Linked DNA regions of Homo sapiens. The protein of the gene in region 1 interacts with the protein of each later gene in a biochemical or structural test. Each region holds a gene or a part of one and is shown in the gene's direction. Other genes may lie near its edges. The genes, in order: KATNB1 and CAMSAP3.

Region 1 (5,183 bases):
TGGCCCAGGAGCGTCCTCTTCAACCCAGACGGCTGCTGCCTGTACAGCGGCTGCCAGGACTCACTGCGTGTCTACGGCTGGGAACCTGAGCGGTGCTTTGATGTGGTCCTCGTCAACTGGGGCAAGGTGGCCGACCTGGCCATCTGCAATGACCAGTTGGTGAGAGAGCCATGGCACCCACCGCCCCCCACTCCCACAGGGCCACCCGCCTCCCTCCAGCCCAGGCCCCTCCTCCTACCCCCACACTGGGGCTGGGATTTTGCCCCCTCGGCTTGCAGTCCCAGCCCCACCTCTCCGCTTTCTGCAGATAGGTGTGGCCTTCTCCCAGAGCAACGTCTCCTCCTACGTGGTGGATCTGACGCGTGTCACCAGGACTGGCACGGTGGCCCGGGACCCTGTGCAGGACCACCGGCCCCTGGCACAGCCACTGCCCAACCCCAGCGCCCCCCTCCGGCGCATCTATGAGCGGCCCAGCACAACCTGCAGCAAGCCTCAGAGGTGAGGGCCTGGGGGGCCTTCGGGGGCCCAGGAGAGGGACTGTCACAGGGGAAGCCTCGGAGTTCCAGCCCTGGGCCTCACAGGGCACCTGCTTCCGTTGGGCTTGGCCTCACGCTCCCAGGGTGAAGCAGAACTCAGAGAGCGAGCGCCGCAGCCCCAGCAGCGAGGATGACCGGGACGAGCGCGAGTCCCGCGCGGAGATCCAGAACGCCGAGGACTACAACGAGATCTTCCAGCCCAAGAACAGCATCAGTGAGGCCGGGCTCCCGCCCCCAGCCCAGCGTCCCCATCGGTGAAAGGGAGGCTGGGGGTCCTTCCAGGGTAGCCTGCTGTGGCTCCGCATCCCTTTAACTTCCTCCTAACCCACACCTGGGCTCCGTATCCTGTCCTCACGTTCCCTGGGCCTTGCCAGGCTGTGCTCTGATGGAACTGAGAGGGGGGCCTGGGCACTCCCCAGCAGCGGCCCAGCAGCTGCTCAGTGTCCCAGTCCCTGCCCTGCCAGGGACAAGTGGGCTGGGAGGGGCAGGACTGAGGGTTCCTGGGACCAGGAGCAGGGTCCACAGTCTGCAGCCGCATGCCTGGGAGCTACCCTCCGTCCCCCGCACTCTGGACAGGGCCCTGGGTCCCAGGTGGCCTGGCCAGGAGCGCTCACAGCCAGGGGCCTCTTTCCTCTGCAGGTCGGACGCCACCCCGGAGAAGTGAGCCCTTCCCTGCACCCCCAGAGGACGGTGAGTTGGGTGAGCCTGGTTTCCCAAGGTCTCTGATGCCCCCCCGTCCCTCATCTTCTCTTCCTGTGAACCCTCCCAACAAGCCCCTTCCCAGGACCCTCCCCTCTCAGGACACGACCCACACCCTCTCCCGCTGGGTCTCTGCCCTCTGCCTGTTATGTGCCAGGTCCCTGCAAGACCGATAGTGCCCCCGTAGGAGCCTGTGCCCTGGTGTGTGGGGGACAAACATGGACACCACCACACTGGGGGGCCTGCCAGGGGCACTCGGGCTGTGGAGGATGGAGAGGAGTCACTGGGGGCCCACCTTAGATGGGGTCTGCTGTAGACGGGATGATCGGGAGGCTCTCAGGAGGCCCAATGCCTGTCAAGGCCTGGGGGCCAGTGAGAAGAGAGAGAGAGAAGTGCTTCTGGCAGGAAGGGAGCTGAGAGGAGGTGAGCTGGGGCGAGTCCCAGCAAGAGGTCAGGCCCACAAGGCCTCAGCTGGGGGTTTGGATTAAGAAGGGAGAAAAATGATCTGCACTGTGGTTGGAGAACGGGCAGGCATGGGGCCACCTGTCCTGTAGAGTACCCCTGCCCTCCCCTCAGGGACCGTCCTTGCCGTCAGTCCTGGCTTTCCTAGGAGCCTCCACTTCCATCTTGCCAGTCATCCCAGCCCCCTCCACATACATGCCAGTGAAGGGACAGGATGGCCACATCCTAGAGCCCCCTGGGTCCCACCCACAGGCAGACCTAAGGTTGAGTTGGGGGAGAGGGAGGAGGCAGGTCCAGGCCTGCCCCAGGTCCTCTGGAACCCCCACGCCACTGGCCTGCAGCCTCCCCCATGCTCCTGCTCCATCCCCCCATTGCAGATGCTGCCCAGAGTCCCGCCCTGAGCCCTGCCCTTCTTGCCAGGCCCTTCTGGCCGGACCCAGTCATCTTTTCCTTTTGCCTCCAGACGCAGCCACAGCAAAGGAGGCAGCAAAGCCCAGCCCTGCCATGGATGTGCAGTTCCCGGTGCCAAATGTATGTCCATGGAGGGAGCATGGTGTGGGGCCTAGAGAAGGTCCTGACCCAGGGTTGGGGGTGCCTCGGGAGGCAGAGAGGGAGGCCCCAGGCCGGCAACCGCTGAGTTTCACACTTTCAGCTGGAGGTCCTGCCCCGGCCCCCAGTGGTTGCTTCCACACCTGCACCCAAGGCTGAGCCTGCCATCATCCCTGCCACCCGGAACGAGCCCATCGGGCTGAAGGCCTCCGACTTCCTGCCCGTGAGTAGGAGCCCAGCTCGAGGCATGGGTGGAGGTCTGTGGGTGGAGGGCAGAGCTTTGCTGCTGGCTCCTCCCATGCCAGCATCTGGGTGTCCATCCCACGCAGGCCGTGAAGATCCCCCAGCAGGCCGAGCTGGTGGACGAGGATGCCATGTCACAGATCCGCAAAGGCCACGACACCATGTGTGTGGTGCTCACCAGCCGCCACAAGAACCTGGACACTGTGCGGGCTGTGTGGACCATGGGCGACATCAAGGCAAGTGCCCACCCTTGCACAGGGCCTCATCTCGCCCCCCTGCCCCTGCCACCTGCCTGCCCGGGCTTGGGGCAGAACAAGAAGAGGCCACCCATGGGGGACAGTGTGGGATAGGCCATCCCTGACGTCACACCATCTGTTTCCGCCATCATCATCATCATCACAGACTGCCGTTTAGTGAGCATCTGTTTACATGCCTGGCCTTACACTCATTGCGTTAGGTGCAGTGCTGAATACCCACAGCCCCATCAGCACACCCACATTCACGTTCGTACCCCCACCCTCACCCTCACAGGGCCACACTGTCCCCCACTGCCCCACCCCTGACGGTGCTCTGTTTGCACAGACGTCGGTGGACTCCGCTGTGGCCATCAACGACCTGTCGGTGGTGGTGGACCTCCTGAACATCGTCAACCAGAAAGCGTAAGTGGCTGCAGAGGGGGAGTGGGCGGAGGGGCAGGGCTGGGCTGATGGCAGCATGTCCTGGCCTCTCCTAGCTCCCTGTGGAAGCTGGACCTGTGCACCACCGTCCTGCCACAGATTGAGAAGCTTCTGCAGAGCAAGTATGAGAGGTGCGTGTGGGGAAGCCATGCCTGCCTGAAGCAGGGGGAGGGGAGAGGTAAGAAGCCTCCTCCAGAACCATGGGAAGGACCCCCAAGAGCCTGGGTGTTCCTGTGAGCTGGCTGTGAAGCATTGCTGCCCCTCAACAGTCCGGAGGTGGGAGTGGAAACAGGCGTGTGTGGGTGTATGTGTGGGTGTGTCTGTGTCTGTTTCTGCCCCTCTCCTCCTTTGTTCCTTGCTGTTTCTCTTTCTGTCTGTGGCCCTTGGTCCATCTGTGACTTCATCCATCTCCCCCTAAAGCTACGTCCAGACGGGCTGCACCTCCCTGAAGCTGATCCTGCAGCGGTTTCTGCCCCTCATCACAGACATGCTGGCGGCCCCACCCTCTGTGGGTGTGGATATCAGCAGGGAGGAGAGGTGAGGGCAGCGCATGTGTTGGGGGCAGGGGTGCCACAACAGGTGAGGGGACAAAGGCCTGGAGGCCTGGGCCCCTCTTACTGACAGTCCTGCTGGGACAGAGTACAGAGGAGGCGTTGGTCTGGGGCCATGGCTCAGGGTGTGGGTGGGCTTAGCCAGAGCTGGGTTCCTCCATGGCCTGGCTGTGCCCACAATCCCTGGCAGGGCCTGGGTGGTTCCCCTCTGGGCCTCCGCCTTCCCTTGGGAGGAAGGGCTGGAGCAGTTAGGACAGCAAAGGCCCTGGGGTTGGGTGTGGGTGGTGGTGGTGCCAGCTAGCCCCTCAGGCACTGCCCTCTCTACAGGCTGCATAAGTGCCGGCTCTGCTACAAGCAGCTTAAGAGCATCAGCGGCCTGGTCAAGAGCAAGTCAGGCCTGAGCGGCCGCCATGGCAGTACCTTCCGCGAGCTGCACCTGCTCATGGCCAGTCTGGACTGAGGAAAGCAGTGGGCAGGGGCGCTCGGCAGCCCACAGGGCCTGGCCTCAGCCCCCACTCCTGTTCCTTGTGCACCCACTGGCCCATGAGCCTCTGCCTGGCCCCTGCTGCTGTCCTGTGGCCGTCCTGGAGGAGGTGATGCTGGTCCCTGGCCACCTCTACAGCCCTGAACTCTTGAGACAACTCTCTCCAGCAATAGCTGCCCAGCTTTGCCCAACTGTTGCTTCTTGGGGCAGCGAACTGAGCCCTGGGGCTGCTGCTGTAATTTATAAGGCAAATTTTATTAAATTTGTAACTATTCCCAGGTTTCCTTGTGGGGAATGTTTTCTGCTGGCCACAGGGCTCCCCGGGCCCAGGAGTGCCTGCCCCATGGTTTGAGATGAGGCCACACCCCCTCCAAGCCCGGGGGTGGGGCTCTGGGCCATGTGGCCAGCAGGGGGCAGCAGAGAATCAGGCCTCTGGGACAGCACCAGTTCAGCCAGTGCAGACTGGGAAGGAAGGGGAGGCGGCAACCACCCTTCCACCACTGGGTGTTGAGGTTAGGGGTGGCCCCCACCAGCCCGTTCCTCCCCACCTCAGCTACACTCAAGCTGTCTTATGGACACCCCCAGGATGCCTCCAGGGGCAGGACTAGAAGGGCACCTGCCCCTTCCTCTGAGCAGGGCTCCGATCAGCTGTCACTCCCTGCTGGAGTCCCCAGCACTGGCTGGCGGGAAAGGGCTCCCTGCTCCGTGGGCACTGCGACAGGTGGGCCCCCTCCTGCTCCCAAGGCAGGGACCAGGTACAGCCCCGCCCCGGGGTGGTCAGGGTCCTCGGCACTGGAGGAAGGTGGCGTGGACCTCTGGCCAGTTCACTGAAGAGGGAAAAGGCCAGGGCAAAGAGTGGGCAGTGGGTGGTGCCCAGCAGTAACCTGGAAGCCCAGCATGGTTTGGGCAAGGCTTTGATAGCCTTTGAAGCTCTCTCCAGCCTTAGTTTCCTTCCCATCAGTAACATGGAGGAATGCCCCTG
Region 2 (7,348 bases), on another chromosome or scaffold:
TAGTAGAGATGGGTTTCTCCATGTTGGTCAGGCTGGTCTTGAACTCCGGACCTCAGGTGATCCGCCCACCTCAGCCTCCCAAGGTGCTGGGATTACAGGCGTGAGCCACTGGGCCCGGTCTTTTTTTTTTTTTTTTCTTTTTGAGATGGAGTCCTGCTCTTTCGCCCAGGCTAAAGTGCAGTGGCACGATCTCAGCTCACTGCAACCTCTGCCTCCTGGGTTCAAGCAATTCTTCTGCCTCAGCCTCCTGAGTAGCTGGGATCACAGGCGCCAGCCACCACACACAGGGAATTTTTGTATTTTTAGTAGAGATGGGGTTTCACAATGTTGGCCAGGCTGGTCTCGAATTCCTGACCTCAGGTGATGCACCTGCCTCAGCCTCCCAAAGTGCTGGGATTACAGGAGTGAGCCACTGTGCCCGGCCTGTATGTTATCTTTTTACGTATCACTTTCTGAGTGCATTTGTGTGCATGAAGCTGACATTTACATTTGTGTGAATTTGTGAATATTTGTGTGAGTCTGTGAGCACTTATTCCTGTTCACAAGGTGACAAGGTGCCTATGTATGTGTGTGTGTGTGTGTGTGTTCTGAAAGTAACACACGTTTTTCTTTTCTTTTTTTTTTTTTTTTGAGACAGAGTCTGGCTCTGTCACCCAGGCTGGAGTGCAGTGGCAAGATCTCAGCTCACTTCAACCTCTGCCTCCTGGGTTCAAGCGCTTCTCCTGCCTCAGCCTCCCAAGTAGCTGGGATTACAGGCATGTGCCACCATGCCTGGCTAATTTTTGTATTTTTAGTAGAGACAGGGTTTCACCATGTTGGTCAGGCTGGTCTTGAACTCCTGACTTCAAGTGATCCACCTGCCTCGGCCTCCCAAAGTGCTGGGATTACAGGCTTCAGCCACCGTGCCTGGCCGAAAGTAACACACTTTTCTTTCCAGGCCTGTAAAGAACGAACTCACACAAACACTTGTGCATTCACAATTATATACAGCTAAGAGGCATGCAGGGGATATTTTGACAAAAATACAATGGAGGGCCAAGCACAGTGGCACATGCCTGTAATCCCAGCACTTTGGGAGGCCGAGGTGGGAGGATCCCTTGAGCCTAGGAGTTTGAGATCAGCCTGGGCAATATAAGGAGATCCCATCTCTACACAAAACAAAAAATTAGCCAGGGATGGTGGCTGCAGTGAGCCATGATTGTGCCACTGCACTCAAGCCTGGGGTGACAGAGTGAGATCCTGTCCAAAAAAAAAATAAAACAACAACAACAAAACAAACAATAGAACAAAAGCAAATATTAAAATATTAAAAACATCCGGCTGGGCGCGGTGGCTCATGCCTGTAATCCCAGCACTTTGGGAGGCCGAGGCGGGTGGATCACCTGAGGTCAGGAGATCAAGACCATCCTGACTAACACAATGAAACCCCGTCTCTACTAAAAATACAAAATATTAGCTGGGCATGGTGGCCGGCGCCTGTAGTTCCAGCTACTGGGGAGGCTAAGGCAGGAGAATGGCGCGAACCCGGGAGGCGGAGCTTGCAGTGAGCTAAGATTGCACCACTGCACTCCAGCCTGGGTGACAGAGCGAGACTCGGTCTCAAAAAAAAAAAAAAAAACAAACAGAAAAAAAAAAACCAAAAATCCACAAATCGGTGCTTAGACCTTACAAATAAACACACAATTGCACTCATGTACACAAATATTTGTACTCAACGCGTTCACACACACTTCCATACTTACAGACACAATCAGATTCATACACAGAAATACATTTGCTTACACAGATATGAATTCCTAGATAAATATGCACATTTGAACTCTCACAAAAGCATTCAGACACAGGCATTCTTTTTTTTTTTTTTAATGTGACGGAGTCTCACTCTGTCGCCCATGCTGGAGTACAGTGGTGCAATCCTAGCTTGCTGCAACCTCTGCCTCCTGGGTTCAAGCGATTCTCCTGCCTCAGCCTCCCAAGTAGCTGCAATTATAGGTGTGGGCAACCACGCCCGGCTAACTTTTGTATTTTTAGTAGAGATGGGGTTTCACCATGTTGGCCAGGCTGGTTTTGAACTCCTGACCTCAGGTGATCCACCCGCCTCAGCCTCCCAAAGCACTGGGATTACAGGCATGAGCCACTGCACCCAGCAGAAACAGGCATTCTTGCACAGGTATACCTGCTTTCATGCCTACACAATCTGTCACAGGCACCCACCATATATTCAAATCCACAAAGATACTCACATATAAACACACATATATGCACAAAAATATAGTCAGGAACTGCTCATCATAAATCACACATCTGCTGGGCGCGGTGCCTCAAGCCTGTAATCCCAGCACTTCAGGAGGCCGAGTTGGGCGGATCACGAGGTCAGGAGATCGAGACCATCCTGGCTAACATGGTGAAACCCGGTCTCTACTTAAAAAAAAATACAAAAAACCAGCCGGGCGTGGTGGCGGGTGCCTGTAGTCCCAGCTACTCGGGAGGCTGAGGCAGGAGAATGGCATGAACCCAGGAGGCAGAGCTTGCAGTGAGCCAAGATCGCACCACTGCACTCCAGCCTGAGCGATAGAGCGAGACTCCGTCTCAAAAAATCAATCAATCAATCAATCACACATCCATGTGCATATAGCCAGATTCACATACTCAAATACAAACCCACTTAGACACACAGCCTCACCTCCACACAGAGCCTTCTCCCAGCACACACTGCAGATACCAGAATAATACACAAAGACACTTGCAAATACACCCAGTACAGCTACGCAAGGACACTCATAGACACAAATAGTCACACTCTTGCAGAAATATACACACTTTTTTTTTTTTTTTGAGACAGGGTCTCACTCTGTTGGCCAAGCTGGAGTGCAGTGGCACTATCTCAGCTTCTGCCTCCCTGGTTCAAGCGATTCTCCCGCCTCAGCCTCCCGAGTACTTGGGATTACAGGCATGCACCATTATGCCCGGCTAATTTTTAAAAATTTTATTTTTAGTAGAGACGGGGTTTTGCTATGTTGGCCAGGCTACTCTTGAACTCCTGGCCTCAAGTGATCTGCCCGCCTTGGCCTCCCAAAGTGCTGGGATTACACTCGTGGCCACCGCTCTCGGCCTGAAATACACACACTCTCAATGTCTCTCCATACTCCTGCATTGACAGAGGCATCAATAACAGCCTCATACAACACACCAGTACGTTCAGATGCACAGAGATAGACATACTCACAGCACTCCAAAAACACACACACAGCCGGGCACGGTGGCTGCCGCCTGTAATCCCAGCACTTTGGGAGGCTGAGGCGGGTGATCACCTGAGGTCAGGAGTTTGAGACTAGCCTGGCTAACATGGTGAAACCCCAACTCTACTAAAAATACAAAAATTAGCCGGGAGTGGTGGCGCAACCCCGTAATCCCAGCTACTCGGGAGGCTGAGGCAGGAGAATCGCTTGAGCCTGGGAGGCGGAGGTTGCAGTGAGTCGAGATCGCGCCACTGCACTCCAGCCTGGGAGACAGAGTGAGTGAGACCCTGTCTCAAAAACAAAAACAAAAACAAAAACAAAAAACAGACACACACTCATCACTTCCATCCATCCTCAGGATACAGACATCTATATAATACATATCCTTGTACACACAACAAATTAAACACACACTTACACGTGCCCAGATACATACCCCACACACACACACCCCTAGACACCCCCCAATACACTTGGTCACCACCCAAATGTATTCAGAGATACACAGATACGAAGACACTCATATTCTTGTGCCTTCACTAACATAATCAGAAACAGGTGCACCCAACCACTCTCTGCCTGAGGGCCGGCGTTTATTGCAAGCACTTGCAGGAGCTCCTACGCCTAAGGGTAGACACTGGGGCTGGCACACACAGAGGGTCCCTAATCCTTTCCAGTAAGCTAGGCGCGCGCGCACACACTCACACACGCGCGCGCGCACACATACACACTCAGTCCTCCGCAAGCTCCCTCCACCATCGCCGCAGTCCAGGCCGCCCCCCTCCGCCCCGCCCCTGCTGCTCCGTGCACACTGCAGTGAGGGGCCCGGGCGGGGCGCAGGGGCGCGCCAGGGTCCGGGTCCGGGTTCGGGGGCGGGGCGCACCTGGGCTCCTCCCCGGGGCGGGCCCGACGCAGCGTCGCCAGCGCAAGCGGCCGCACCTGGCTCAGCAGCGGCGGCGGCGGCGGCGGCGGCAGCGGCGGTAGCAGCAGCGGGCCCGGCTGGGGCGCGAGCGCGGCGCAGCCCAGCCCAGCCCAGTCCGAGCGCGGACCCGGCGCCCGCAGCCCCGGCGCCGCCATGGTGGAGGCGGCGCCCCCCGGGCCCGGGCCGCTGCGGAGGACCTTTCTAGTGCCCGAGATCAAGTCGCTGGACCAGTACGATTTCTCGCGGGCCAAGGCGGCGGCCAGCCTGGCGTGGGTGCTGCGGGCCGCGTTCGGGGGCGCAGGTACCGGGGCTCGGGGGACCGGGGTCGGGGGCGGCGGGCCGGGCGCGGCAGGTGCTGGGGGGGGGCGGGGCGCCGGGCCGGGAAGGCAGGGGGCCGTGGGAACAATAGCGCCGGCCGCCGGGGGTCCCCGGGCTCGGGCCCCTGCCGCGCCGGGGCCTCCGAGCTTCCTGCTCGGCCCGGGCGGTGGACTTTGCCCCGCCGGCTGCGGGAGCGCGGTGGGGGTGGGGCCCGCGGCCCAGCTCCGCGCGGGGGTCCCCGGCGTCCAAGCCTCCAGGTGAGCCGGGCGGGGTCTGCGGGCCGGGTGGGGTCTCCCCGTGCGGACCTCTCGTTCCCGCCTCCCGCACCCCCAAGGCCTTCCCTTGCACGCCTTCTTCTCTTTTACACACATCACGCCCCTGCGAGGATCTCCTCTCGGTCTCTTCCCCCGCCACACACCCTGGAGACCCAGACCCCGACCTCGCTGGGGGGTCTCGAGCGCTCCGGTCTCCACCACCGCACGACCCCCAGGCCCCAACACACACCCCGCGTCGGCCCTGGCCGCGCTGCGGGCGGCGACCGGGGAGCTCTGGGAACCCCCTTTCGCCTCCATAGCCCCCTCCAGCGCCTGGCAGCTGCGACTTATGGCCCCATTTTACTGGGGAGGTTGGCGAGCCCAGCTGAAGGGAAATGGGTAGTACAAGATCGCCTGGGGTGGGCCCCCCGCTCCTCCCGGCTGCGGGGCCTTCTCCCATTAGAGCAGATCCTTCACTCCCTCCCCCAGGCCCGCTTGCCTGAGAGCCCGAGCCACCCTAATGGGGAGGATGCCGTAATCCCGGGTCCCCGGGATTAGAGGCCCTGGAAACACTCAGTCTCGGCTTTGGGCAGCTTCACAACCCCAGGCCAGAGCTAGGAGTCAGGGCCTGGCCAGAGAAGACAGGGGTTAATTAAGGTCTGGGCTTTCCAGCGGGGAGCTGTGGGGGTACATCCTTTTCTCCCACTGGTTCTGCCCACTGGTGTTGGCACAGCCCATCCCCCCTCTCCCTGGCCTTCCCAGATCAACCTGTTCTGGGTGTGGGTCTCAGTGACAGCTGTCCGTCTCCTGGTTCCGCCCCAGCCTGTCCCTCTTTCTCCCAGACAGTCTCTGTCTGCGTCGTTCCATGCATGCATTTCCCACTCTGGGGTCTACCTCCCTGCAGATATTTGCTTGAGGAAGAAAGAGATTGGGCATTGGACAGCCAGGACAGCCCCAGCTCCTCACTTCCAAGGTTACCAGGCTGTAGAGAACTCAACGTGGAGTGTCAGAATTGAATGTGAAGTCCAGCTGCACCAGAATGCGAATTATCCCAATTATCTGAGCTTCTGTTTCCCCTTCTATAAAAGAAGGCGTTCATTCACAGACTTATCTGTTTTGCGAATGTTTGTGGGGCAGGGGCACTTGCTATGTGTAGGGCACTGCTCCAGTGATGGAGACCCCCCGTTACCTCTTTGCAAGGTTGCTGGGAGGCGTAAAAGCTGTAGTGACCACAGAATTCTTCGCGTGGCACGGGGCGCGTGATACATGCGAAACGGTTGCTCGCTGCTGGTGTGATTGGCGGTGGTATATTTTGATGAATAATATTAACGTTATCCATTATCCCCTGGCCAGGAATCAGAGTAGAAATTATCCCATTTTGAAGACAGCAAAGCAAACTTCTGATGAGGGGTGTTGGTGAGCTCCCAGTGCCCTGACTCACCCAGTTCTGTTCTTGTTGACCCAGCTCCCTCTGCTGTGTGACACACGGCAGTGGCTGCCTCTACCGTGAGGGTCAAGTTCAATCTGTTCCCTGTTCCACTCCCCTAAAAAGAGGAGAAGGGCTGAAGGAAATGGGAGCAGAGTTCTACAAGATTCATGAGCTCTGGGGACTCTTGACGGTATGATACCTATCAGGTGCTGGGCTGGGCGCTCAGGGTGTAGAGGAGACGGCAGGGGATGGATATGGGGCAGAGGGGGATGGGCAGGAAACCAGATCATAGGGAAGCTGGCCAGCGGGGCCTGGGGAAAGAAATTCTTGAAATCTTCCAGGGAGGGAAGAGATCCCACAGGTGGAAAGATTTGAGTCTGGAAGGATGCATGGAAGTTTGACACGGAGAAGAGATGTGTGGGCAGTGGGCAAAGGCTCGGAGTGTGGACCAGCAGGGAGTTCTCAGAGAATAAGATGCAGGTCCCCGGGGTGGCGGTGGGAGATAAGGGAGGCTGGTCAGACTGAGGAAGGCCCTTCAGGCCCCTGGTTATGGATCCAAGGGTACTGGGGAGCCACGGACAGTGTTGGGAACTGACAAGATCAGGTATGCAGTGGCCCCGTGGGAGTAGTGATGGCTCAGAGGAAGGGATAGTTCTGGCAACTCCAAGGCACAGGTGTGAGAAGGCTGTGCAGAAATAAAAGCAGAACACAAGCTTGGAGATTAGATAAGAAAGGGTTCCAAGCCTGGCCAACACGATGAATCCCCGTCTCTACTAAAAATCCAAAAATTAGCCGGGAATGATGGCACACGTCTGTAGTCCCAGCTACTTGGGAGGCTGAGGCAGGAGAATTGTTGAACCTGTGAGGCGGAGGTTGCAGTGAGCCGAGATTGCACCACTGCACTCCAGCCTGGGTGAAAGAGAGAGACTCTGTCTCAAAAAACAAAGGGTTCCATGTTAAACACATTTGGAAAACACCCCATGCAGTTCTTTATGCCTTCAGAACAGATGTGTGATGTGTGAGGGAAACTCAAGTTCATGTTGGACATTTTTATCCTGGACAAGTTATCTCAGCTCTCCAGGCCTTGGTTTTCTCATCTGTACAAGGGGTATAATAATAAGTGTCGTAAGGATTAAATGACTGGATGCAGGGAAGGTCATGGTATAAATAAATGGTTGGGTGTGGT

What was found.
Region 2: the proteins of KATNB1 (region 1) and CAMSAP3 form a complex in vitro, tested with the Homo sapiens proteins (one study listed by BioGRID).

What each region holds. Positions count from the first base shown.
Region 1 is NC_000016.10:57,752,770-57,757,952, forward strand, and holds the end of KATNB1 (katanin p80 WD40 repeat-containing subunit B1), read left to right. Parts: intron 1-8; coding exon 9-159; intron 160-307; coding exon 308-498; intron 499-619; coding exon 620-750; intron 751-1,175; coding exon 1,176-1,226; intron 1,227-2,160; coding exon 2,161-2,228; intron 2,229-2,349; coding exon 2,350-2,469; intron 2,470-2,575; coding exon 2,576-2,725; intron 2,726-3,071; coding exon 3,072-3,148; intron 3,149-3,222; coding exon 3,223-3,297; intron 3,298-3,586; coding exon 3,587-3,703; intron 3,704-4,044; coding exon 4,045-4,177; 3' UTR 4,178-4,475; downstream 4,476-5,183.
Region 2 is NC_000019.10:7,591,689-7,599,036, forward strand, and holds the start of CAMSAP3 (calmodulin-regulated spectrin-associated protein 3), read left to right. Parts: upstream 1-4,174; 5' UTR 4,175-4,314; coding exon 4,315-4,462; intron 4,463-7,348. UniProt on the Homo sapiens protein: Key microtubule-organizing protein that specifically binds the minus-end of non-centrosomal microtubules and regulates their dynamics and organization.